Linked DNA regions of Homo sapiens. The gene in region 1 interacts genetically with each later gene. Each region holds a gene or a part of one and is shown in the gene's direction. Other genes may lie near its edges.

Region 1 (7,388 bases):
TGCCGAGCCGAAGCTGGACTGTACTGCTACCATCTCGGCTCACTGCAACCTCCCTGCCTGATTCTCCTGCCTCAGCCTGCCGAGTGCCTGCGATTGCAGGCGCGCGCCACCACGCCTGACTAGTTTTCGTATTTTTTTGGTGGAGACGGGGTTTCGCTGTGTTGGCCGGGCTAGTCTCCAGCTCCTAACCGCAAGTGATCCGCCAGCCTCGGCCTCCCGAGGTGCGGGGATTGCAGACGGTGTCTGGTTCACTCAGTGCTCAATGGTGCCCAGGCTGGAGTGCAGTGGCGTGATCTCGGCTCGCTACAACCTCCACCTCCCAGCCGCCTGCCTTGGCCTCCCAAAGTGCCGAGATTACAGCCTCTGCCCGGCCGCCACCCCGTCTGGGAAGTGAGGAGCGTCTCTGCCTGGCCGCCCATCGTCTGGGATGTGAGGAGCCCCTCTGCCTGGCTGCCCAGTCTGGAAAGTGAGGAGCGTCTCTGCCCGGCCGCCATCCCATCTAGGAAGTGAGGAGCGCCTCTTCCGGGCCGCCATCCCGTCTAGGAAGTGAGGAGCGTCTCTGCCCGGCAGCCCATGGTCTGAGATGTGGGGAGCGCCTCTGCCCTGCCGCCCCGTTTGGGATGTGAGGAGCGTCTTTGCCCGGCCGCCCCGTCTGAGAAGTGAGGAGACCCTCTGCCTGGCAACCGCCCCGTCTGAGCAGTGAGGAGCCCCTCCGCCCGGCAGCCGCCCTGTCTGAGAAGTGAGGACCCCCTCTGCCCGGCAGCCACCCCGTCTGGGAAGTGAGGAGCGTCTCCGCCCGGCAGCCACCCCGTCCGGGAGGGAGGTGGGGGGTCAGCCCCCACCAGGCCAGCCACCCCGTCCCGGAGGGAGGTGGGGGTTAGCCCCCCACCCGGCCAGCCGCCTTGTCTGGGAGGGAGGTGGGGGGTCAGCCCCCCGCCCGGCCAGCCGCCCCGTCCGGGAGGTGAGGGGTGCCTCTGCCCGGCCGCCCCTACTGGGAAGTGAGGAGCCCCTCTGCCCGGCCAGCCGCCCCATCTGGGAGGGAGGTGGGGGGGTCAGCCCCCTGCCCGGCCAGCCGCCCCGTCAGGGAGGTGAGGGGCGCCTCTGCCCGGCTGCCCTTACTGGGAAGTGAGGAGCCCCTCTGCCCAGCCACCACCCTGTCTGGGAGGTGTACCCAACAGCTCATTGAGAACGGGCCATGATGACAATGGCGGTTTTGTGGAATAGAAAGGGGGGAAAGGTGGGGAAAGGATTGAGAAATCGGATGGTTGCCGTGTCTGTGTGGAAAGAAGTAGACATGGGAGACTTTTCATTTTGTTCTGTACTAAGAAAAATTCTTCTGTCTTGGGATCCTGTTGATCTGTGACCTTACCCCCAACCCTGTGCTCTCTGAAACATGTGCTGTGTCCACTCAGGTTTGAATGGATTAAGGGCGGTGCAAGATGTGCTTTGTTAAACAGAGGCTTGAAGGCAGCATGCTCCTTAAGAGTCATCACCACTCCCTAATCTCAAGTACCCAGGGACACAAACACTGCGGAAGGCCGCAGGGTCCTCTGCCTAGGAAAACCAGAGACCTTTGTTCACTTGTTTATCTGCTGACCTTCCCTCCACTATTGTCCTGTGACCCTGCCAAATCCCCCTCTGCGAGAAACACCCAAGAATGATCAATTAAAAAATAAATAAATAAATAAATAAATAAATAAATAAATAATAAAAAAAATAATAATAAAATGTGAAATAATTAGGAAGTGGTTAATTTTGAGTACCTATTACCTTTGCTTTTAACGTAATTTATTCAATTGTATTTATTTAACTTGTAATAATGTCTACATTAATACTGGCTGTGAAATAACTGAAAATTCAGGAACTGGCTTTCACATGCTGGTATAACCCAGCTCCAACACATCACTGTAACAGCAGCTATGTATTCAACAGCCACAATCACGTAGTCGGTCTTTCCTTCACATTTTACCATATGTTCTAAATATATCTCAATAACTTTGCTTTAAAAATTTGTATTTGGCTGTTAAATTGTTCTTTTGATCAGGATGCTATAGGAAAATTCCCTTTTTACTAACCTGTAAAGTTCTGTGTATTCAGAATAATGAAACTTTTATTAAATAACCTTTTCTGAATTCTTTTTCTGGATAACCATAAACCTGGATTCTAACAGCATCCTCTAATATTTCCTTCCAAGAAAACTCATCCTTTGGGGAAAAAATAGTTTTATAATATGCCATAGCATGTTTCTAATATAAATGGTGGTAATTGGGCTGTTGATACAACTAGAAAAACTCAAAAAATGATAAAAGTGCATTTGTTAAAGTTACCATCAGGAAATCAAAGAAGTTAAATCCTGAATGGTTTAAACAATTAAAATAAAGCCTACATGTAAAACATCACCTGTTACTCATTTTCTTCTGGCTATAAATCTAGCCCTATGACTTCCTAGTTGCCTGGAATACAACTCGTAGAACTTACTGAGTCCCTCTGAGCCTGTGTCTGTATCTGCAAAATAGAGGCAATCATACCTAATTTACAGCTAGTTGGTAAGCATGACATAGATCACGTACGTCAAGTGCATTACCCAGTGTCTGGCACAAATAATAATAAATATTTTCCCCCATTTCATGCTAATCTCAGAATTTTTTGAGGTAACATGGGATTTAACAGTTTATTGTGGTGAAGTCTGAATGGGAGTCAGGAATTACTATGCAGAACAGAATGCAGAACACCATCCTATCTTCTCTCTTGCAGAAAGCCCATCACTTCGGATTTGTAGATCTGAGAGGGCTCCCAGGGCACTGGCCTTTTAAGCATGACCACTTCTGCCTTCTCCGTTGTAGCTCCTCTTAAACCAGTGGTTCTCAAACTTTAGGATGCATCAGAATCACTTGATGGCGCAGGGTTTCAGGGAATTTGCATTTCTAATGAGTTTCTAGGTCCCAGGACTCAGCCTTAAGGACCAAGACTGTAATCTCTTCAACTCACACTCAAGCAGCTCCAGCCATGCTTATCCTCTAAAAATCCTCTGTGCTCCACCTGTTCACCCTACCTCCTCTCAACTCCTAGAAACCAGTGATTTTTTTTACTGTCTCCGTAGTGTTGCCTTTTCTGGAATGTCATATAGTTGGAATCATAGTGTGTAGCATTTTCAAATGGGCTTCTTTCTCTTAATAATATGCATTTAAGTTTCTTCCATGTGTTTTTATAGCTTGATAGCTAATTTCTTTTCAGTGCTGAATAAAATTCTATTGTATAGATGTATCACAGTTTATTTATCCATTCACCTACGAATTACATCTTGGTTGCTTCCGACTTTTGATACTTAGGAGTAAAGCTACTATAAACATCCATGTGCAGGTGTTTGTGGAGGTAAGTTTTCAAATCCTTCGGGTGAATACATAAGGGGCCCAGTGATGACTGAGTGCAAGCAATACTTTTTACTTACGTGGTCTCGGATAAATCACTTCACTTTTCTAAGCCTCAGTTTTCTCTTCTGCAAATTGTGATAAAAATAGCACCTCCTAGAGTTCCCTTGAAGATAAAAGAGGTAAGGTATTCAAGCACTTCAATGCCTGATACTCAATACATGGTAACTTTTTCTACATCCTTCAGCACACAACTGCTCATAATTCCCTCATACGAGTAGGGCTTTAACCTTTTAGCCTCGATGATTTGTTTTGCTCTTCCAAATGCCTAGAATGCCCTTCCAGGTTACCGTCTCCCTGAGCCTTTGGTTGGAATCCTCATACCAGAGGGTCAACACGTTTAGTAGAGGAATTACTGAAATAGTTGGGTTCCAAACACTAGCTCTGGCATTTACCTTCTGTGTAAATTGGCTGAAGTTACCCAACGTCTCTGTATCTCAATTTCCTCATCTATAAAATGGGGATAATAGTATCTACCTCATAGAGTTGTTGTCGGAGCCATTTTAATGGCAAAAACCGCAATTACTTTTGCACCAACCTAATAAATCCGCGCATATTCTTAAAGAAGTTAGAACAGTGCCTGGTACAAAGTAAATGCCAGATCAATGTTATTAATGTTAGGTGTCCGCCACCTATGCCACGCAGTGAGTTCCTTAGGTATAGGGACAGTCTAATCTCCGAATCCACACTGCCTAGAACAAAATAAGCATTGCAGTACATTTGAGAAAGTAAAGGTGTAGTGGAAACCGAGAGCGAAATGAGGGCGTAGGGAGAAAAGGGTGGGGAAGCTTAGAGACCGGTGAGGGAGCAGAGCTGGGGCGCCTGTGTACAGGGATAGAGCCCGGCGGCAGCAGGGCGCGGCTTCCCTTTCCCGGGGCCTGGGGCCGCAATCAGGTGGAGTCGAGAGGCCGGAGGAGGGGCAGGAGGAAGGGGTGCGGTCGCGATCCGGACCCGGAGCCAGCGCGGAGCACCTGCGCCCGCGGCTGACACCTTCGCTCGCAGTTTGTTCGCAGTTTACTCGCACACCAGTTTCCCCCACCGCGCTTTGGGTAAGTTCAGCCTCCCGGCGCGTCCCCGCGAGCCTCGCCCACAGCCGCCTGCTGACGGGTGGCTTGGGGAGGTCGCGGCGCCTCGCCCAGTTCCCCCGCGAGTGCAGCTCGACCCTGGGCAGGGCTGGCGGCTGGCGCCCGCGCCCGGCCCCAACCCAGCTGCGTGGGTGGGGAGCTGGAGGGACCTCAGTCCTGCATTTCAGAGTCGAGGAGACTGGGCCCACGGGGGGGAAAGTGCCGTGCCATGGGTGGGTCACCCAGGTCTTGGTGGGGCCCAAGCTGATACTCAGCTGTCCTCGCTCCCTGAAAGCTTCGCTTATTACAGCTAGCAGCGTAAGGGATCCACTTAGCCATCTCGGCCTCCCCAGTCCTAAAGGTCTAGGGGACAGAAAAAAGCTGGGAGTCGGAAGGTTCCTCGGGTCCCCGGCATGGCAGACGGGGCTGGCTCAGAGGTCTGCTCTGTGGACTTGGAATCGCACCCATCCTGTGAGCATCTTCTCCCCCTCACATAGGCAATTTATTTTATTTTACTTATTTTTTTTAGAAGGTAGAAAACAGTGGATTTGCATATTGAGGGTTGGAAGTTCAAGAAGTTTGCTTTTTCCTGAAAAGACTAACCGTTTTCTTTGCAACAGAATCCTATTGACTAGATATGAATCATTCCCTTGGTATTTGAGTCACCAGGTGGAAGATTTGGATACTTGATTGCAGATGACCATATATAGGAAAGTATGCAGGTGCTGGGAGGTTCTGGGTCGCTGGAGGCCCCTCTGGCTACTGATACGAAATTGCATAGCCCAGGCCGAATTCTTTCCAAGGATTTGTGTTCAGCACTGACAGCAAGACCCTGCCCTCCGGGAAAGATACATTTACTATGTTCACCAACATCATTTTTTAAAATGTAACTAATTAAAACGTTACTCCATGAAGATACCACCTTTGGTTTTCACGAAGACGGAAAACTTCAGACTGACCAGAAAGGGAATTTTTAAATGTAAAGAAAACCAGAATCTTGTTCCCAGAACTCTGTGGTTGTGTAGAGAAACCTGTTTAGAAATAACCGTAGAGGAGGAAGTAAAAGGAAATGATGTAATCCCTTTCAGGAAAGGATATATTGAAATTCTGTTTAAGTCATTTGGCCTTCGCTGTGGAGTAATTCTTTACATCTTAAAAGTTAAATGATAGATTAGTAATAATTCTTAATAATTTTCCAGTTCTGCTGGATCAATGCATATTAAGTGTCAGATTTGGTCAGGTGTGGGCCAGGCAGCAGATTAAGGCAGAAGCATGGGGGTTAGGTTCATACCTTTAGAGTCTAGCTGCCTAGATGCAGTAGGGGTCCACTCACTAGCTGTGTGACTGTGGGACATTACCATACCTCTCTGGGCTCCAGCTTCTTCATATGCAAAACGAAGATGTAATACCTAACTCACTGGATGATTGTGCGGCTTGTATTAAATCATTCATTTAATCAATAAGTTTTTTTTTTAAATATCTACCGTGCACCAGTGCACACAGATAAGAAGAATCTCCAGCCCTGTGAAACTGACCTCGTTCAATGCTGGCAACACCCCCTTCTTCACTTTTTACAGATGAGGAAATTGAGGCCCAAAGAAATTGTGTTTAGCTTTAAGAGGCAAAATGAGAACCAATAATGCCTTGTTTTCACTGTACAGATGGTTTGACTTCTGATTTTTAGACTTCAGAATAGTTTATCTGGCTGTAACCCCTCATAAGTCAAAGAGCATGTATTTAGAGAGATGCAGTATTAGACTCTAACTGGAGAGTTGACTGCCCTAGGCTACAGAGAGCCTGAAAAAACCAAGGTGAAATATTTCCAGAGACTAATAGTGTAATTTCCCATTGAACTTTTCTCTGGGGGTGTCAGGGAATTTTTAGAATATTTTGTTCCCAGGAAGGGTGGGAGCAACTTGCATTTCTAAATCAACCCTGGAGATATGCCAGCATGTTTGAATAATATCTATTTAAGAAAAATGTGTCTGGCTTCCCAATCAAAGAACTGTGCCTTTCACCTCTGCACCCCACCAAGGACTGGACCACCTCCTCAAAGAGCAGATGTGTCTTTATAACAGACTGTAGGCTTGGAGCCTTGTAAAATGTACATGGAGTTTCACAATCAAGCACAAGGAATCCAACTGAAGGCAGCTAAACTTTGTGTTGATTTGGTGAGGAGGAGTAAAATCCTGTGTTTTTGTTGTTATTGATCCCCGTAGTGGTAGCCTGTCAGTAATCAGCAGAGTTCTCCTGGACTTTAAATAAGTCAAAAATTGGCTTTTCAGGAAGTATATTTGTAAGCATCTTAAGTACAAAGATTTTTTTCTGTCTCTTGTCTTGAAGTCCTCACAGGTCTAGCACAGTCCCTTGCATATGGTAGATGCTCAGTAAATGTTTGTTTAGCAAATGGGATACCCAATGTCAGATATATGCTCTTCCTGAGAAGGTTTTTCTGTGAATGTTGACATCTGTTTTCTGGATTCAAGATTAAGGGTTGGACTAAGATTATTGTGTTCTGAATCACATATTGATACCATTTACTAATTGTTTTCTTTTAATAGATTAGTGTGATCTCAGCTCAAGGCAAAGGTGGGATATCATGGCATCTATCTGGGTAAGTAAAAATTAAGCCTTCACAACACAGTAACATATATGAGTCAAACCAAAACACAGAAGGTCAAGATAGCAAGGAAAATTTTAGGAAAGTTTTTAAGTTTATCTGGCAAAATTAACATGCTAGAAAAGCCAGAGGATGTCAAAAATAATAAAATATTTTTAAAAATGCATTGTAAAGTTACATAGTTAAAATAACTTATGATGACACCAAGGCGGAAAGGTCAAAATCAGATAATAAATTTAGTATATAATTTGGGAATTTATTATATGAAAAAGATGA
Region 2 (6,452 bases), on another chromosome or scaffold:
GAGACTGTGCTCAGGCACTCTCTGGGCCTGGACAGCTGCCCTGGGCCTACCAACCTGGAACCTGCCCTGATGCAAGTCTCCCTGGACAAGACCTAGATGCCACTGTCCCTGGCTCCACATTCTGTGCCAACTCTCCTCTATTCAAATTTCCTTCCTTTGCCTCATGCTGCTACCATATCCTATACCCGGGCCTTCTTCCGCCTTCTGGAAGTTCCCATTTGCCCAGGAAGTTGTGTCCTCCTCTTAATGTCTTCTACCTGCCACTTCCCTGAGCCAGTGGTCTCACTGCTTTGCTTGCCAGTTACCAGGTCCCTGCCCCCTAGGTGCACCCTCTCCCATCACCGTCCTCCCCACCCCACTTCCCATAGAGCGCTCTCATGGGTCCTCTGTTGCTGCCCTGCGACTTCTGGCACAACCTTCATTCCTCTCCTCTCCCAGGTTTTGGTTCCTTTGTGGACAAAACGGTGCTGCCCTTTGTGAGCACAGTACCCTCCAAACTGCGCCACCCCTGCCCCACCCGGCTGGAGCGCTGCCAGTCACCATTCAGCTTTCACCATGTGCTGTCCCTGACGGGGGACGCACAAGCCTTCGAGCGGGAGGTGGGGCGCCAGAGTGTGTCCGGCAATCTGGACTCGCCTGAAGGTGGCTTCGATGCCATTCTGCAGGCTGCACTCTGCCAGGTGAGGAGGTGGGGCGGGGATCTGAGCCTGGAGGTCTGTTTGGGAACAGGACTGCCCCTTATGGTTGTGTAGTGCACAGTTCTAGGGGGTGCCATTCATACCATAGTTGCTGTAGTTTGTATATTTAGCAATTACCTGGTGGGTTGGAGTAAAATATCTTGAGGAGGAGGCATGTTTTTCGAATTCACAAGTAAGCCTCCACTAGCAGCAGCCTTCTTTAGGGGGCTGGAGAGAGCAGGGAGAAGCAAGGTACTGGAGGCAAGGGGATGGACAAGCTGACTCAGAGTGAGGCTGGCCACATTCTTGGCTCACAGAGCTGGCTGGGGTGGCTCAAGGGCCATGCCCAGGTGCATAGCCTACCACCCCCACTGTAACTCAGGAGCAGATTGGCTGGAGAAATGTGTCCCGGCTGCTGGTGTTCACTTCAGACGACACATTCCATACAGCTGGGGACGGGAAGTTGGGCGGCATTTTCATGCCCAGTGATGGGCACTGCCACTTGGACAGCAATGGCCTCTACAGTCGCAGCACAGAGTTTGTGAGTCCCTATTGTCACCCTGCCTCTCCCCATTTCAGCCACACCTCTTTCCTTCCAGGACTCCCACTCCCAGCCTTACAGTCCTCACCAGTAACCACCCTGTAGACACCCTGCCATCTTCTCCAGCAGTTCCTCCTTTCAGCTGCCGAGACAGGACACCTTTGTCACCCCATTCCCTACCTCCTTCCTATTCCATAGCAAGCCTCCAGGGCTCCTCCAGCTGGTGGAACCTTGGTTCCTGGATTCCCTGGGCTGAGGGCACCTTGCATGTTGTGGGGGAAACCTGTGGGGCTCACCTTGTCCCTGCTCCCTGTCCCAGGACTACCCTTCTGTGGGTCAGGTAGCCCAGGCCCTCTCTGCAGCAAATATCCAGCCCATCTTTGCTGTCACCAGTGCCGCACTGCCTGTCTACCAGGTGAGAGCTGTCTACATGTCAGATCCCCCAGCCCCATCCCAACCTTTCTCAATTCCCCCAAAGATACATTCTCCGTCCCCCATATGCCCTCCTTCCAGACCTCCGGGAGCCCATTTTCCTAGAGCTGTGACCCACCATTTCCCTTAACTCCCCAAAACTCAGGAGCTGAGTAAACTGATTCCTAAGTCTGCAGTTGGGGAGCTGAGTGAGGACTCCAGCAACGTGGTACAGCTCATCATGGATGCTTATAATGTGAGGGGCCAGGGGAAGGGGAGATGGTGAGGGTGGGCACTAGGGAAAGGTGGAAAGGGGCCCTTGGGTGGGGTGGCAGAACTAAGAGGAAATGGTCACTTTTTGGTCTAACATTCCACAGCTCCTACCTATAGTCTGCATGTGGCTGTCATTAACTGTTCAATCTTACATTCATAAATCTTAAAACATCTGACATGCAGACAGCATGGAGCTCTGCTCTGGGCAAGAAAGGAAAGTTTCAATCACTGAGCTTTTATTTCATGCGCCCACCATCCTAGGTGTACATACTGTTTGCTACTTCATTTAACCCTGCCAAAAGCCTTGCTTCATAACTGTTACCATCCCTATTTTACAGATGAGGAAACCCACACAAGGAGGCTAAGTGACTTGTCCAAGGTCACAAAGATAACAAACAGAAGGGCTGGCATTTGTCCCCAGTCAGTCTGTACATAAACAATGTGAGATCTGGAGCCTGCTTTCACTAAGTTTATAAATAATTCAGAGCTATTCTTCACAAGAACCATAGAATTTTACAGGTAGAAGGAACCATAAAAATTCTTAGTGGTTTAGGTCTTACCTCTGCAACTAGGCTGTAGGCTTCTTGATAACAGGGAGCATCTCCTAAACCTATGGCAAGAAAATCTGAGACAGTATCAAATTTCCCAAGATAAACTCTGTAATGAATCTGCCCTTTAGACCTGGCATGCACCCAGGTTATGTGTCCTGATGTGGGGCTTCACAAACATGGTCTCTGTACATTTACAGCACCTGGCCAGCCTGTGACCCTCAGTGGCCCTTGCTGGCAGCTGCACTGAAATGCTGTATTAGAGGCCTCTGGATCCTGTATGTTCTATGCAAGGTTCTCACGGGTCCTCCCTCCAGAAATGCCTCGACTGGGCAGAATGGAAGGAGCCCCAGGTGGCAGAGGGCAGGGTGCTGGCAGAATTGGGAACACCTGGAGAGGACATAAGGTGGGGTTGGAGTCCTTTTCTGCCTTCACGTGGTTATCCACTCGCTCTCTTCCCATAGAGCCTGTCTTCCACCGTGACCCTTGAACACTCTTCACTCCCTCCTGGGGTCCACATTTCTTACGAATCCCAGTGTGAGGGTCCTGAGAAGAGGGAGGGTAAGGCTGAGGATCGAGGACAGTGCAACCACGTCCGAATCAACCAGACGGTGAGAGCCAGCAAGCACAGGCAGAAGGCGGGCAGGGGGAGGTGGGAGTGGGAAATTAAGCAGGCAGGAAAAGATGGGTGGCAGGTACAGGGAGTGACATGAGAGCCTGAGGTAGTCCTCCATCCATCCTTCCTGGAGCAGTCTGAGTGGCTTCCTCAGGCATGTTTCTAGGAGTTGGGTGTTAACATGACCCCATCCCTTCATTTACTAAGGGGTGAGGTTCTGGATGATTGGTGAGTTTGGGGTATGTGTGTGTGCATGTGTATAACCATGGCCTGATTCCTGCCTCTTCTCAGGTGACTTTCTGGGTTTCTCTCCAAGCCACCCACTGCCTCCCAGAGCCCCATCTCCTGAGGCTCCGGGCCCTTGGCTTCTCAGAGGAGCTGATTGTGGAGTTGCACACGCTGTGTGACTGTAATTGCAGTGACACCCAGCCCCAGGCTCCCCACTGCAGTGATGGCCAGGGACACCTACAATGTGGTGTATGCAGGTGAGGGCCTCCTCTTCCCTTCAACCACCTGGCTCCCAACAACCAACCAACCCTGGCCCGTATTCCTCCGCTGCTTTCCATCCCCCCCACAGGAGTCTCCTCGACATCCCGACTCCCCACTCAGTTTCATCCCTTGAAGCTTCCCATGTATGTCCAGGCCCTCCCCCTGACTGGGGCTCCCTCCACTCTCTCACCCCTCAGTGTTTCACTATACTTAACATCCTTTCAGCTGTTTGTCTGTCTCCAACTCTTTTGAGAACTTGGGTTTAGAGGTTCCTGGGAGAGACAAGTCAGGGGTGATCAAACCCTCTGACCTACTTCTCTCCTTTGCCTTCCCCTTCCAGCTGTGCCCCTGGCCGCCTAGGTCGGCTCTGTGAGTGCTCTGTGGCAGAGCTGTCCTCCCCAGACCTGGAATCTGGGTGCCGGGCTCCCAATGGCACAGGGCCCCTGTGCAGTGGAAAGGGTCACTGTCAATGTGGACGCTGCAGCTGCAGTGGACAGAGCTCTGGGCATCTGTGCGAGTGTGACGATGCCAGCTGTGAGCGACATGAGGGCATCCTCTGCGGAGGTACCTGGAGCCTTGGGGAGAAGGGCGGGGTCTGAGAGGCCTTCCCAAGGCACTTAGGCTCTGGGAATCTCCTGGCATGGAAGGCAAATATCAAAAGATTCCGGTGTATGGGTTAGAGGGTGTGGTTGGCATACTTCAAAAAGATTGGATGCGTGGGCTTGTCGTGCCACATGATGGCCAACTGTGTGTGTGGAGTATGGTTGTCACCCTCTGCATGGCTCTACCCCAGGCTTTGGTCGCTGCCAATGTGGAGTATGTCACTGTCATGCCAACCGCACGGGCAGAGCATGCGAATGCAGTGGGGACATGGACAGTTGCATCAGTCCCGAGGGAGGGCTCTGCAGTGGGCATGGACGCTGCAAATGCAACCGCTGCCAGTGCTTGGACGGCTACTATGGTGCTCTATGCGACCAATGCCCAGGCTGCAAGACACCATGCGAGAGACACCGGTGAGGCCTCAGGTCTTGCATCTTGGGAGCAGGGGCACAGTGGGGCTTGTTGAGCTACTCCCATCTGCCTACTCTCCGTCCTGCTTGTAGTTGGGCAAGGGGCATTGGGTGACAACTGCCCAGCTGGTAACCTATTGGCATCTACTACACAGGGACTGTGCAGAGTGTGGGGCCTTCAGGACTGGCCCACTGGCCACCAACTGCAGTACAGCTTGTGCCCATACCAATGTGACCCTGGCCTTGGCCCCTATCTTGGATGATGGCTGGTGCAAAGAGCGGACCCTGGACAACCAGCTGTTCTTCTTCTTGGTGGAGGATGACGCCAGAGGCACGGTCGTGCTCAGAGTGAGACCCCAAGAAAGTAAGTGGGCAGGGATGCCACAAACCCTGGAAGTTTGATGGGCAGGGTCTCAACTCTGGGGATGCAGAGTGAAGATAATGGGAAACAGGCTGGGGGCTGAAGCAGAACTGTGAATCCAGGACAAAGGCAGAGGCAATTGAGCAAGTGGACGAGGCTAAGGCCCTGGGCGGTGAGGATAACCTTGGACCTCCCTGGGTTCCCTTTGCTTTCAGTGACAGACAGGGTTGGACAGGCTGGACACACTGTGAGCAACTGATGATCTGTCCCTATGCTCCAGCTCCCACAAGTGTGTCTGGTTTCTTGTTCACAGAGGGAGCAGACCACACGCAGGCCATTGTGCTGGGCTGCGTAGGGGGCATCGTGGCAGTGGGGCTGGGGCTGGTCCTGGCTTACCGGCTCTCGGTGGAAATCTATGACCGCCGGGAATACAGTCGCTTTGAGAAGGAGCAGCAACAACTCAACTGGAAGCAGGTGAGGAGACTTCCTGGTTAGGCCCCTTTTTAGCTGTTCCCCCACCACAAGACCAGCCCTGATTCCTCCCACTGGGTTCCCCCAGCCCCTGGCACATGTAACCAACCCCTCTGCTAACTTCCATCAGCTCCTAGGATTCGGCTCAAGGCTGGCCTCTTAGGTCTAGAAAGGGGACGAGGAATCCTGGGATTTTTGCTTATAATCTGCAACATCTTTCTCCAGGACAGTAATCCTCTCTACAAAAGTGCCATCACGACCACCATCAATCCTCGCTTTCAAGAGGCAGACAGTCCCACTCTCTGAAGGAGGGAGGGACACTTACCCAAGGCTCTTCTCCTTGGAGGACAGTGGGAACTGGAGGGTGAGAGGAAGGGTGGGTCTGTAAGACCTTGGTAGGGGACTAATTCACTGGCGAGGTGCGGCCACCACCCTACTTCATTTTCAGAGTGACACCCAAGAGGGCTGCTTCCCATGCCTGCAACCTTGCATCCATCTGGGCTACCCCACCCAAGTATACAATAAAGTCTTACCTCAGACCACAGCTGTCACTTTGCTTTACCTCATCAAGGCCAAAGCAGACTGTTTATAGCCTGGGCCTCGGGAAAGCTCTTGTCCATCCTCCTCTTGCCACCTGAGGGCAGGGAGAGGTGCCCAAGCGCGAATGTGCAGGAAACTCCCGGGGTGCACCCTGGGACCCAGGAAGCCAGGTCTGGAAAGGGCCTATGAATTCTCAAGTGCTGCGGATGCAGGGGGGTCCCAGGTCAGAGACACTGCATCTGTTGGTGTCTAGCCTCCTTCCGTCCTGCTGCGTGTGCTTTTTCGTCTTGCTCAGAACTGATGCCCTGTTTTTGCTCCTACTTGCTTGTTCCTCTGTGGAGAAGGGGTTTTAAAATGGCTTATAGGGTGCTGGAAGTTGTGGGGTGATTATGTAGGGAGAAAAAAGGAAAACAACTAAAACCAGTATGAAAAAGCTTCCCCAAAGAGGAGATAGTATGTAGAAAAGCCCCATTTTCCTTTTATTTAAATATCCTAAATATATCACGAAGGAACAT
Region 3 (7,023 bases), about 77 Mb from region 1:
GCCAGATAACCCTGGCAAGCCCTCTTTAGCCTGCCCAGCCTCCAGATCCCTTTTTTCCGGACTTTATTGTGAAACTCCAGGTGGGGAGACAGGGAGGCTGGACTTTTGGGGGCCCCCTCCTCTTAGGCTATTTTATAGCTCCTACCTGGCAATACCTCCTGTACCCCAGAGAGCTGCAGAGAACTTCATGTGCATCCGAAACCAGAATGTGTTGTTTCCTGACCCCAGGCCCTCATCTCACCCCAAAACCCAAATAAACCCCTGGGGCAGCCAGCTCCGGAAGCGAGTCTGGATTTGATCCTTGTTCTCTGGGGTCAACCCGAGGGGCTTATGATGGAGCAAGGCTCCCCCATCCTCTCAGCCATGCTCCCTCACATGCACTGGGCCTCCACTGCAGAGACCCAGAGCCTGGAGAAAGGTTCCCCAGGCCAGAGTTTGGCCGTCCCCAGCACCCTGCCTAATGGACATCAGTCTTGGGGCCAGAGACCCAGGGCAGGGAGCGCCTCTCACCCCTACCCTCACTCCTGCAGCCATTTCAGGGCCTGGTGCCCTCCCTGAGCTCCTGGGCCTGTGGGGTGGGATTTTTACTTTGTGCCACAGTGGGGGAAACTGAGGTACAGGACCAGTGAGTGGCAGAGTTGTGGAGACTCTGGGACACAGCAGAGGGCTGTCGTTGGCATGTGGAGCCCAAGTTGAGGTCGGCACTGTGTGGGGTTGGGGCGCCGGCAGGAGCACGTGTTGTGGGATCCATAGAAGGGTGGGAGGTGGGACGCGTTGCCTCCTACCCCGCCTTGGGTACAGCAGGAGTTTTGTCTCCAACGTGTTTGGGCACCAGTGTCTGTGTGGTGTCAGTGGGGCCTCCCTTTTGTGGATCAAGAAAGAAAGAACCCTTCCTAGGGCTGCTGGGGGGCTATAGCTCTCCCCATGCCTGGCAGCTGGGTGGGGTATGGGGGCTCCACCCAACTGCTGACTTCCCAGTGGGAGTCAGACCCTGAACTTATAGCACCCACTCATGCCCCGTGTCACACTGTCCTTCACCTGGTGCTCGCCACCCAGCCCCTGCTGGGGTACCCTGGCCTCTGCTGGCACCTAGCAGGCAGGCAGTGGGGGGGGCAGTCAGGGCTGCACCCTCCCCACCACACACGGGCAGATGGCCACTGGTGTGGCTGGCCTGGGGCTGCTGTGTCCCCCGTCCCCCCGTGCTGGACCAGGCTGAAGCAAATACTTGTGTGGATGGCTTGACCTGTTGTCGCCACTCAGACCAAACCGGAACCAACCGGCTGTTGCCCTTGGGCCAGGGCCTGCAGCTGAGGCTGCCATAACCAGCCTGTTCTCGGCCTTCTGGGGGGCCTCGAGCAGCTCCCAGCTCTGGGTGGTCCCCACAAGACACTGGCCAGGACCGGAGGGCTGGAGGTCAGGCCAGGAGCCCCCCTGACTGCGGGGTCCCTACAGGGGCAGTCCTTGAGCTGTGGGTCCCGGTGGGGCGAGGGCTCCTTCGGATGCTTCAGGGGATGAGTGTGGGCCCTTCTGGCTGGCAGGGTCACCCTGGGCACTAGGCGTGTGTGGCTGGATCAGGTGGGTTGGGCAGAAGAGGGCCTGGCCGGGCAGCCAGGGACTGGTGTGGCCAGAGTGGGCAGCTGGGCCCCCGAATCTAGGCCACGCGTCTGCAGAATGACAAGTGATGGCGCAACCCGCCCAGCTGGGTCTGAAGAAGGAGGCTGCCTGGGGGACCACCCACCCCCGTCCCGGCCCCAAGCCCGGGACGCCTGCCTGCATGCATTGTCTGGCCCTGGCAGGGAAGCCTAGGGGCGATTGTCCCCCCAGCCCTGCCCATGGTGTGTCCTTGGGTCACAGGCTTTGGTGGCTCTGGGGAGCTGGGCAGCTACTGGGGAGGGACCCAGGGGCCACCTGCACATCTGCCCCTGTGGGTGGGCCCCCACCCCAGCTTCTCAGCCCCCAGGGAGGGGCCAGGGCTGCTGACCTGCCCTGGCTCTCACAGCTTCCTGCCCCCAGCCTGGTCGTCCTCTGTGAGGGGGCCCCAGTCCCCCTGCAGGCAGCAGGACTCCACCCCCCGGCCCCCTTGAGGGCCCGCCTGGGCCTCCCCACTCCCCGGCCTGTGAGACCCACTTGGCCGGACCCAGCGCCGTGTTTGTACTTTGCTCTTCTCGGTATGTTTTCCGTCATGACCGCCGTGTGGAGCTTCCATAGGAGCTGCAGGATACAGAACCTTGCCCACCCCAAGGAGCCCCCACCCCCGCCCCGGCCCCCTCGCGCTGCTCCGGCCTGTGCTCTGACCGGTGAACCCGCGCATCGCCCCCCAGACCGTCCACACGGCCACGTGACCCTGCACCTCCTTCCTTCTCGCCTGTTCTGTTCCCTGGCTGTCCATCTGAACTGCTTTTCAGGCTCATATGGGGTGCGGGGGCTACTGAGGACGGACCCCTCCTGGGGTGAATCTGCACCACGAGGGGGCTGGCTGGCCAACCCTGGCACCCCCTCTGAGCTCCATTTCAGTCAGAGGCCAGCAAAGGGCAGCCTGTCCCCTTTGCCCGCAGCACCTGCCCGTCGTGGTGCCGCCTGTGAGACAAGCATGGATTTTATGTTTCCAAGCAATTGAACAAATTAAAAGAACGAAGAGTCACATTTTGTGACACTTTGAGATTTGAATTCTCCGTGTCCATGAGTGAAGCATCATGGGGCCACTGCTGTGGGGTTGGCTGCAGGTTGTGTGGGGAAGGCGGCTGTCACACCGAGGCAGACCGGAGTCCTTGGGACAGACTGGTTGGCAAAGCTGAAGATAGAGACCTTTGGCCCTTTTGGGACACAGTTTCCAGCCCCTGGTCTGGTGGGACCCTGGATCTGGGTCAGAGCCTTCCTCACTCAGGGCCGCCGAGGCTTCCACTGCTGTGTCTGTAAACGGTGCCGGGTTTGGGGGTGCCTGCCTCATGGTTGCCCATCTTCCCCACAGAAGTCCCGGGCCCAGAGCCCGGCCAGCAGGAGCAGTTGGTCTTCGGCAGCGGGGATGCTGTGGAGCTGAGCTGTCCCCCGCCCGGGGGTGGTCCCATGGGGCCCACTGTCTGGGTCAAGGATGGCACAGGGCTGGTGCCCTCGGAGCGTGTCCTGGTGGGGCCCCAGCGGCTGCAGGTGCTGAATGCCTCCCACGAGGACTCCGGGGCCTACAGCTGCCGGCAGCGGCTCACGCAGCGCGTACTGTGCCACTTCAGTGTGCGGGTGACAGGTGAGCTCTGGGGCCACGCCAGCTACAGAAAGGAGCCGAGTGCCGGGCTCCCTGAGTCCCTGCGTGGGTCAGGAGCGGCTGGGGGTCTCTCTGGTCATTGGTGGAGAGGAGGGCACCCCCAGGAAGTGCTGCCCAAATGGGGGACCCTGCCCCATCTGGGAGGGGCACCTGGGGGCCTCCTGGGGCAGGTTGGGCATTGGTTGCGGCCATCTCTGCCTTGCAGACGCTCCATCCTCGGGAGATGACGAAGACGGGGAGGACGAGGCTGAGGACACAGGTGTGGACACAGGTAGGAGCAGGGTCCAGGGTTCAGGCCAGCCGGGGTGGGGCCCGCTGCCACCGCCAAGCCCTGCCCTTCACAGGCAGCTGAGGGACTAAGGCCCCGGAACAACCTCCCTGGGGTCACCCCGAAGGTCTGGTCCCCTCAGGATACAGGAGGGGCTGGGTCACTGACATGGCTCTAGATGCCCCACCCTGGTGGCAGGGCTGGGGTGCAAGGGGACACCGTGTTGCTGATGGGGAGACTGAGGCACAGGGCCCTGGGGGTTCCAGGAGCAGGAGGAGGCCAGGGCTGGCCTGTGGGGCTCTGGTGTTGGCTATAGGTGAGGTGGACCCCGCAGACATTAGCGCAGCAGGGCAGGGCACTCAGGTGGCTGCCGTGGGGTGGATGGACCCGGGGTGAGGGCGCCGGGGCACCTGCCACAACCAGTGGCGGGCAGGGTGGCTGGCAGGAGGGTGGCTGGTGGGTGGGCTGCGGCTGTGAGAGAGCAGTCGGGGACGATGCCTGGCGTCCCGGCCTGGAACGGTGGCAGGTGGACTTTGCCAAGTTGTAGGGTGGGGAGGTGGGGCTTCTGGTTTTGGAGGGAGCTCTGAGGGGAGTGCGTGCAGGTGAGGGTCATCGTGGCACAGACATGGGGGGCAGTTACGACTTGCGGACTGATGGTGTGTGCGCTGGGTCCCTGGGCCAGTGGGGTAAGCAGGTGAGGAAGGGAGGCTGAGTCCATGAGAGAAACAGCTGGGGGAACTCACCCTGGGGGTCTCCAGGAGGCCTGGGAGGGAGCTCAGCACCGTGGGGTGCCTCTTTCCAGCCTGTGTCCACACTGCTGCTTGCTGGGCCTCAGTGCCCCTGATGGGCGTGTGCCTGGAGGGGGCTGGCAGTGAGCTCACTGAGGGGAGGGCTGCTTCCCTCCTGGGGAATGCCAGCCCATCCTTGCCTGGAGTCCCGGCAGGAAGGCAGCACCAGCCCTGAGGAAGGAGAAAAACCAGTTGGGCTGTGAGAGGGGTGGTGGGAGCCCTGGACATCGAGATGGGAGGAGGCAGGGCCTCCAGGGTGCCACCGTCTCTGGGTGCCCGCCAGACTTGGAGCTCTGCAGAGGGTGGTGTAGGGTCTTGATTTCCGTGGGCCCATGCTGCCCAGCTGCCTCCAAGGCTCCTGGCTCTGCAGGCGACTGGGCTCCTCTCCTGGTAAACTGCTCCCAGGTCCTGGCTTGTCCACTAGATGGGCCTGCCCCCTGGGTCTTCAGTCTCCCCGTTGGTGGGCCTGGCCCTGGCACGCCTCTCTGGGCAGGTGGGCTCCCCTGGACAATGCCCTGTGCCCTGTGACTTCACAGGTCCGGGCAGAGCACCCTGGAGGGGAGGGGAGGGGACACACGGCCCAGCTCTGAGAAAGCCCCGGGGAGGGGACAAGATGTGGAGGCTCCTGGGAACCTCATCCCGCCCTCTTCCTACACAGGACGGGAAACTGAGGCTGGGGATGGGCAGGGGCAGCTCTGGGAAGGGGGTTGTTCAGAGGGGCCTCTGCTCCCACTCGGGTCATGGCCTTCACACGCACCTCGGCCCGCAGGGGCCCCTTACTGGACACGGCCCGAGCGGATGGACAAGAAGCTGCTGGCCGTGCCGGCCGCCAACACCGTCCGCTTCCGCTGCCCAGCCGCTGGCAACCCCACTCCCTCCATCTCCTGGCTGAAGAACGGCAGGGAGTTCCGCGGCGAGCACCGCATTGGAGGCATCAAGGTGGGCGCGGCGGGGTGGCTCTGGGCCTGGCAGGCGCGGTGGTTGCTGCCTCCGCTCACTCACCCGCCCGCGTCCCGGTGCAGCTGCGGCATCAGCAGTGGAGCCTGGTCATGGAAAGCGTGGTGCCCTCGGACCGCGGCAACTACACCTGCGTCGTGGAGAACAAGTTTGGCAGCATCCGGCAGACGTACACGCTGGACGTGCTGGGTGAGGGCCCTGGGGCGGCGCGGGGGTGGGGGCGGCAGTGGCGGTGGTGGTGAGGGAGGGGGTGGCCCCTGAGCGTCATCTGCCCCCACAGAGCGCTCCCCGCACCGGCCCATCCTGCAGGCGGGGCTGCCGGCCAACCAGACGGCGGTGCTGGGCAGCGACGTGGAGTTCCACTGCAAGGTGTACAGTGACGCACAGCCCCACATCCAGTGGCTCAAGCACGTGGAGGTGAATGGCAGCAAGGTGGGCCCGGACGGCACACCCTACGTTACCGTGCTCAAGGTGGGCCACCGTGTGCACGTGGGTGCCGCCGCTGGGGCTCCTGGGCTGGCCCCAAGGGTGCCCCTTGGCTGCGGGTTGCGTGAGGATTTGGGTCTAGGGGTTGGAGCTTCGGGGGCAGAAGCTGTGGGGGTGCTTGTGGGGCCAAGTCTCAGCCACCCCACACCTCAGGGCCATAGGCAGCTGCGTTGGGACCCGTTTCCGTGTCTGCAGAGGGCCAGCCTCAGCCACTGAAGTCCCTGACATGGAGCTGCCCACGGGCTTCTTGGGGGTGGGTGCGGCTTGGGCAGCAGTGGTGCCCCAGGACAGGAGGGCAGTGTGGCCAAGCCCTCCAGGCCCCCTCTGGGCCTCAGAGGCGGTGGCTGAGCCCCGACCTGGCCGATTGGCTCTCGTCAGCTGTGTGCAGTGGGGCCCGAGCTCACTGTCTGCCCGCCTCCTGAAGCCCTTAGCTTTGTTCCCATGGCTGCCGGGTGGGGGCCACTGAATTGGGACGGTTGCGACACTCAAAGCCCAAAGAGAAACATCTGTTCAGAGAGAAGACGGTCTCTTGGGGGCGGGGAGCAGGCGCAGGGCGAGGGTGGAGTCCAGACCCCGCCCAGAGAGGCCGCCTCGGGCCCTGTCCAGGGTGCAGGTTCTGCAAGAGCCCGGGGGAGGGCAGGCCAGTGACCAGAGGTTGTCTGAGGGTCTGGGCTGGGTTGTTGGGGTGGAGGCAGAGACGTGCATCCTGTGAAACCACAGCCACCGTGAAGTGCCTCCACGCCTCCTCCAGGCAGCCTTTGGGGCTGACGCAGCCCAGCCTCGATCTGTACCTTGGGGGTCTCCCACATCCTGCCTCGTGCCCGGCGGGGCTGCCTCGGGGGCGTGCCTGAGCCGGGTCTCTTGTCCCCGCAGTCCTGGATCAGTGAGAGTGTGGAGGCCGACGTGCGCCTCCGCCTGGCCAATGTGTCGGAGCGGGACGGGGGCGAGTACCTCTGTCGAGCCACCAATTTCATAGGCGTGGCCGAGAAGGCCTTTTGGCTGAGCGTTCACGGGCCCCGAGCAGGTAACGACTCTGTCCCATGCCGGCCGGCACAAGAGCTCCAGCTCCAAGGCCCTGGCCGCGCGCCCTGCACGCCCCGCACGCCCAGCCCTGCTCGCTCCCGCCCCGGCTCGCGCTCCACTCGGGGCCGCCTCGGCAAGGCTGGCAGCTCCAGCCTCCACGGTGACCGCCCGCTTCGAGCCCTGTGGCCTGCGCCGACCCTTCCCGCACGCCTGCGACCCCCACAGGAGGTGCCCGGTGCCCACCG

What was found. A genetic interaction does not mean that the proteins touch.
Region 2: changes in ANXA3 (region 1) and ITGB7 together harm fitness more than expected from each alone (negative genetic interaction), as found in Homo sapiens cells (one study listed by BioGRID).
Region 3: changes in ANXA3 (region 1) and FGFR3 together harm fitness more than expected from each alone (negative genetic interaction), as found in Homo sapiens cells (one study listed by BioGRID).

What each region holds. Positions count from the first base shown.
Region 1 is NC_000004.12:78,547,383-78,554,770, forward strand, and holds the start of ANXA3 (annexin A3), read left to right. Parts: upstream 1-4,387; 5' UTR 4,388-4,477; intron 4,478-7,053; 5' UTR 7,054-7,091; coding exon 7,092-7,106; intron 7,107-7,388. UniProt on the Homo sapiens protein: Inhibitor of phospholipase A2, also possesses anti-coagulant properties. Also cleaves the cyclic bond of inositol 1,2-cyclic phosphate to form inositol 1-phosphate.
Region 2 is NC_000012.12:53,190,807-53,197,258, reverse strand, and holds the end of ITGB7 (integrin beta-7 isoform a precursor), read left to right. Parts: intron 1-438; coding exon 439-680; intron 681-1,059; coding exon 1,060-1,218; intron 1,219-1,537; coding exon 1,538-1,633; intron 1,634-1,795; coding exon 1,796-1,885; intron 1,886-2,116; exon of another isoform or gene 2,117-2,914; coding exon 2,915-3,061; exon of another isoform or gene 3,062-3,357; coding exon 3,358-3,551; exon of another isoform or gene 3,552-3,895; coding exon 3,896-4,119; exon of another isoform or gene 4,120-4,348; coding exon 4,349-4,568; exon of another isoform or gene 4,569-4,720; coding exon 4,721-4,929; exon of another isoform or gene 4,930-5,239; coding exon 5,240-5,400; exon of another isoform or gene 5,401-5,527; coding exon of another isoform or gene 5,528-5,560; exon of another isoform or gene 5,561-5,622; coding exon 5,623-5,703; 3' UTR 5,704-5,936; downstream 5,937-6,452. UniProt on the Homo sapiens protein: Integrin ITGA4/ITGB7 (alpha-4/beta-7) (Peyer patches-specific homing receptor LPAM-1) is an adhesion molecule that mediates lymphocyte migration and homing to gut-associated lymphoid tissue (GALT).
Region 3 is NC_000004.12:1,796,286-1,803,308, forward strand, and holds part of FGFR3 (fibroblast growth factor receptor 3 isoform 1 precursor), read left to right. Parts: intron 1-2,968; coding exon 2,969-3,238; intron 3,239-3,461; coding exon 3,462-3,527; intron 3,528-5,081; coding exon 5,082-5,251; intron 5,252-5,334; coding exon 5,335-5,458; intron 5,459-5,549; coding exon 5,550-5,740; intron 5,741-6,628; coding exon of another isoform or gene 6,629-6,779; intron 6,780-7,023.